Regions from separate parts of the Homo sapiens genome. Here region 1 is linked to region 2. Evidence: fine-mapped expression QTL. A gene starts in region 2. The other region holds a variant in brackets. All regions are shown on one strand. Distances are between the middles of the regions.

Evidence for each region.
Region 1: its variant is fine-mapped to the expression of MAPK8IP2 in tibial nerve (GTEx, PIP 0.95).

Annotation. Positions count from the first base shown.
Region 1 is chr22:50,752,605-50,755,504 of GRCh38, forward strand. It overlaps the pseudogene SNRPA1P2. Among named protein-coding and RNA genes, the nearest start is that of ACR, 16 kb to the left of the region's middle. The variant G/A (reference allele first, on the strand shown) is at 1,554.
Region 2 is chr22:50,599,262-50,602,161 of GRCh38, forward strand. MAPK8IP2 (mitogen-activated protein kinase 8 interacting protein 2) reads left to right here and starts at 1,532. Exons shown (of 12, transcript NM_012324.6): 1 at 1,532-1,622; 2 at 2,528-2,633. The coding sequence starts at 1,558. RefSeq lists a silencer at 942-1,121 and an enhancer at 1,911-2,411.

The DNA.
Region 1 (2,900 bases), 150 kb after region 2:
TTTTTGGTTGTGTCTCTGCCAGGCTTTGGTATCAGGATGATGCTGGCCTCATAAAATGAGTTAGGGAGGATTCTCTCTTTTTCTATTGATTGGAATAGTTTCAGAAGGAAGGGTACCAGCTCCTCCTTGTACCTCTGGCAGAATTCGGCTGTGAATCCATCTGGTCCTGGACTTTTTTTGGTTGGTAAGCTATTGATTATTGCCACAATTTCAGAGCCTGTTATTGGTCTATTCAGAGATTCAACTTCTTCCTGGTTTAGTCTTGGGAGGGTGTATGTGTAGAGGAATTTATCCATTTCTTCTAGATTTTCTAGTTTATTTGCATAGAGGTGTTTGTAGTATTCTCTGATGGTAGTTTGAATTTCTGTGGGATCGGTGGTGATATCCCCTTTATCATTTTTTATTGGGTCTGATTCTTCTCTCTTTTCTTCTTTATTAGTCTTGCTAGCGGTCTATCAATTTTGTTGATCTTTTCAAAAAACCAGCTCCTGGATTCATTAATTTTTTGAAGGGTTTTTTGTGTCTCTATTTCCTTCAGTTCTGCTCTGATTTTAGTTATTTCTTGCCTTCTGCTAGCTTTTGAATGTGTTTGCTCTTGCTTTTCTAGTTCTTTTAATTGTGATGTTAGGGTGTCAATTTTGGATCTTTCCTGCTTTCTCTTGTGGGCATTTAGTGCTATAAATTTCCCTCCACACTGCTTTGAATGTGTCCCAGAGATTCTGGTATGTTGTGTCTTTGTTCTCGTTGGTTTCAAAGAACATCTTTATTTCTGCCTTCATTTCGTTATGTACCCAGTAGTCATTCAGGAGCAGGTTGTTCAGTTTCCATGTAGTTGAGCGATTTTGAGTGGGTTTCTTAGTCCTGAGTTCTAGTTTGATTGCACTGTGGTCTGAGAGACAGTTTGTTATAATTTCTGTTCTTTTACATTTGCTGAGGAGTGCTTTACTTCCAACTATGTGGTCAATTTTGGAATAGGTGTGGTGTGGTGCTGAAAAAAATGTATATTCTATTGATTTGAGGTGGAGAGTTCTGTAGATGTCTATTAGGTCTGCTTGGTGCAGAGCTGAGTTCAATTCCTGGGTATCCTTGTTAATTTTCTCTCTTATTGATCTGTCTAATGTTGACAGTGGGGTGTTAAAGTCTCCCATGATTATTGTGTGGGAGTCTAAGTCTCTTTGTAGTCACTAAGGACTTGCTTTATGAATCTGGGTGCTCCTGTATTGGGTGCATATATATTTAGGATAGTTAGCTCTTCTTGTTAAATTGATCCCTTTACCATTATGTAATGGGCCTTCTTTGCCTCTTTTGATCTTTGTTGGTTTAAAGTCTGTTTTATCAGGGACTAGGATTGCAACCCCTGCCTTTTTTTATTTTCCATTTGCTTGGTAGATCTTCCTCCATCCCTTTATTTTGAGCCTATGTGTGTCTCTGCACATGAGATGGGTTTCCTGAATACAGCACACTGATGGGCCTTGACTCTTTATCCAATTTGCCAGTCTGTGTCTTTTAATTGGAGCATTTAGCCCATTTACACTTAAAGTTAATATTGTTAT[G/A]TGTGTATTTGGTCCTGTCATTATGATGTTAGCTGGTTATTTTGCTTGTTAGTTGCTGCAGTTTCTTCCTAGCCTTGATGGTCTTTACATTTTGGCATGTTTTTGCAGTGGCTGGTACTGGTTTTTCCTTTCCATGTTTAGTGCTTCCTTCAGGATCTCTTTTAGCACAGGCCTGGTGGTGACAAAATCTCTCAGCATTGGCTTGTCTGTAAAGTATTTTATTTCTCCTTCACTTATGAAGCTTAGTTTGGCTGGATATGAAATTCTGGGTTGAAAATTCTTTTCTTTTTCTTTTTTTGGTAGCACAGTGAGTGGAGTTTATTTTTATAATTTGTAGAAAATTGACATTTAGATTTCAAAACTTATATTACAAAATTATCAGCAGCAGTCTTAAGCATTTCAACCATGCTGATAGATTCCACTTTGCTAACACAAACAAGGCTATTATACTATGTTTGAAAAGCAAGACTTGTTCCAAGACGGCCTATTATTATACATCTGCCTCACTGCTCAGGACCCGTTTGTGACTGTGTCTTCTTCCATCTCTTCTTCACCATCATCAGTGGGCCCCAATCTGCGTTCTCTGCCAGGGATCTGACCAGACTGCAGCAACCCCTTCAGCCTCTCCACTTCAGCCAGAGTTGAAGCATTTGCTATAGCATTCTTGATTGCTTCTACATCCCCTGGAGATGGCCCACCTTTCTTTTTGTCAGTTGGCAAACCAGCACCTGGATTAAAAGTTTTGCTTCTCCTGGCAATATCCTTTGCAAGCTGTGCACCCCGTTTGCCCTTGAACATTTTCTCTGCTTCCTGACGCTCTTTAGTTTCACTTTCTGGAAATCCAGTACTCTGATTTGCGGAACTTTATAAATCACATACAATCTGTAATGCTTCTTATTGGTTACTGGATTTCTTAGGATACTTAGGTAAGTCAGCGATTTGAGAGATGCCAGAGGGTCCAGATCACCCAGTTCCACGAGCCTATTATTGGTGAGAATGAGTTCTGTCAGACAGGGCAGAGCCTGATCAAGTCCCTCACCTATACGGCATATTCTGTTTTGTTCACTAACAACGTTTTCAGTCTTCTCAACAAAGGAAAACCATCCAGTTTCCTGATCTCATTGTCAGAAAAATCAATAGCATCAAACTGGTCTAACGTAGCACCTAGATTTTCAATGACGGGAATTTTATACCCCCGGAGGTCCAGCTCCCGGTCGCGCACCGCGCTGGTGTACTGCGCCGCCTGCTCGATCAGCTCCGCCGTCAGCTTGACCATCCTGCGGCCTCCCGTTCCCCCGCGCTGTGGAAAGCTGAAAATTCTTTTAAGAATGTTGAATATTGGCCCCC
Region 2 (2,900 bases):
CAAGTTCTGTCTCAAAAAAAAAAAAAAAAAAAAAAAAAAAAAAAAAAAAAAGAATTTTCCGCAGAACTAAGACATAAAGAAATCTTAGGGCACATAACTTTCATCAAGGGGGAAAAGGGATTGCGCTTTTGTTGAAATGCCAGCCTCCTTCTTTAGCCAATATTTAGCCAGGTGCTGTGGTTCACACCTGTAATCCCAGCACTTTGGGAGGCTGAGGCCAGAGGATAGCTGAGCCCAGGAGTTTGAGACCAACCTGGGCAATACAGAGAGAGCCGGTCTCTCTCTCTCTCTTTTTTTTTTTTTGAGACGGAGTCTTGCTCTTGCCAGGCTGGAGTGCAGTGGCGCAATCTCGTCTCACTGCAACCTCCGCTTCCCGGGTTCAAATGATTCTCCTGGCTCAGCCTCCCAAGTCGCCGGGACTACAGGCGCCCGCCACCACGCCCGGCTAATTTTTTTGTATTTTTAGTAAAGACGGGGTTTCACCATGTTGGCCAGGATGGTCTCTGGTCTCGATCTCTTGACGTCGTGATCCACCCGCCTTGGCCTCTCAAAGTGGTGGGATTGCAGGCGTGAGCCACCGCGCCCAGCCACCGGTCTCTATTTTAGAAAGAAAAAAAGTGTCCTGCAGTCTCTCCCTAGTTCTGCGCCCTCAACCCTGATCTCCCGCCTCCTCCCACAGCCACCGTCTCGAGCTCAGCTTCAACCATGGCCCTCCCCACAGGGCTCCATCCCAAGCCAGAGCGGGTCAGTTCCCTACACAGGGCCCAGCAACACGGTGCCCAAGAAAAAGTGTTTCCAGTGGGACGCATGTCGCCTCCGTGGGTGCTAACTTCTCCCAGTGCCCGTCGGTACGTCCGTCCGGCTGTGCAGTCTCTACTGAGTGCTCAAAGTCCACTTTTAGCCCCAGCCAGCATCCTCTGAGTACCTTGTGCTCGATTCTGAATCCAGCCCTGCTCGGCGACCCTCGTGCAGACGTCCCCGTGCAGCCCCGGTCAGCACCCCGTGGGGACAGCTCCGATCAGCACCCGACGGCGGACAGCTCCTCCCGCGCCTCCCGCCTCGCCCGCCACCCCGCTCCGGGCCGCACCCGGGTTAGGGTTCCTGGGGGGATCCTGGGCGCGGCGGCGCAGCTCCCGGGGCCGCCCCGGCCTCTCGCCCAGAGGAAACAGCCCACGGCGAACCCGAGGCCCGCGGACCCCGGCGCTGCCTCCTCGGCCTCCCGCCCCGCGCGGGTCCTCCAGGGCGGGGCCCGACGCCCACCCGCCCGCCCCTTCCCTCCCGCCCCTCCCCGGGAAAAATCCTCATCGCACGCCCGGCCCTTCCCCAACCAGCGCCCGGCAGTGAAGCCGCCGCCTCTCCTCCAACCAGCGTCCCCGGCCGCGTCCCTCCCCCGCCTCCCCCGCCGCCCTCCCCGCGCCGCCGCGGAGTCCGGGCGAGGTGCGCGGGGCGGACGCCGCAGGGCGTGTCACGAGGTGAGCGGGGCGGGCCGAGCGCCGGCGCGGGGCGCGGCGAGGCTCCCGCACCCCCCGCCGCAGTCGCGGGCCTCTCCCGGAGAAGATGGCGGATCGCGCGGAGATGTTTTCTCTCTCCACCTTCCACTCGCTGTCGCCGCCGGGCTGCAGGTACCCCCCTCGGCGCCCGGGCCGGGCGGACCCTCCGCTCCCTGCGCACCCCCCCGACCCCGACCCGGCCCGGACCCCCGTCCCCGCCGCCCCAGCCCCGCCGCCGGCGCGGACCCGGCCCCGGCCCCCTGCGGTCCCTGAGCCTCGGCTCGGGCGCCCCACCCCCACCCCGCTCCCACTCCCTCCATCTTCACCGCGCGTCCCCAGCCTCAGTGACCCCCGGGCCCCGCCGGGATTCTGAGCCGCGCCCGGCCTGGACGGCTGACCTGTCAAGGGTGGAGGCCCTGGGCCGACCCTCTGCGGGGGAGGATGCGGGCGGGATGCGGGCACACCCTCCCGGCGCGGCGTGTCCCGGTGGCCTTGGCCTCTTTCAGTGGACGCCAGACCTGGCCGATAGGGCCCGGCCGGGAGAGAGTGGAAATCAAGCCCGGAGCCCTGCGGGAAGGGACTGGGGTTGGGAGGACGCTGGGCCTCTGGGTTTAGGCCTCACTCCGCCGGAGAGGGGGAGACAAACAGGCCAGACTCTCTTCCCAGAGCAGGAGCGACCCCTCCCCATCTGCCGCTGCCGCGTTGCAGCTCCCCCTCCCCTGCTCTGCAAGACCCTGACCCCAGGGGCCTGGAGCTGCGAGTGGAGGGAGGAGAGGCTGCTGGCTCTCCAGGGAGGCGGGGTGGGAGGGGTGGGGGCAGGGTTGGCTCCTCCGGGCAGGCCTGGCTCAGATGGGGGAGGGGATCCACAGGCGAGCAGAGCTTGGGGGTCAAGATGATGGCAGGATGTGTTCCGAGAGCTGGGGGCTGTGGAAACCACTGGGTGTAGGAGCTGACGCCTCCCTCTGCCCCTCCTCAGGGCCAGTTGCCAGGCAGGGAGTCCAGGGTTGGTGGCTCTCTGACCCTGGTCTCCTTTCCAGGCCTCCCCAGGACATAAGCCTGGAAGAATTTGACGACGAAGATCTGTCTGAGATCACTGATGACTGTGGCCTGGGCCTCAGCTACGACTCAGACCACTGTGAGAAGGTGGGAGAAGAGTTGGGGACACAGATCCAGCTCAAGGGAGGGCCTCATTAGGTTCTTCTTAGCGTTCACTTGGGGTTTTAGGGTGGGTGTGAGCTCAGCCTTGAACCGGGGACTCCTCTGATGGCTCCTCCCCACTTAACCCTTGAGGTTTCCTTGGTATCAACTCTCTCTTATTCCAACACATTGCAGGCCTCCACGCAGGGCCTTCCCCAGCATTCTCCCCGACCCCATCGGTGGCCAGCCCGGGGCAGGGAGGTGCTCCTTTGC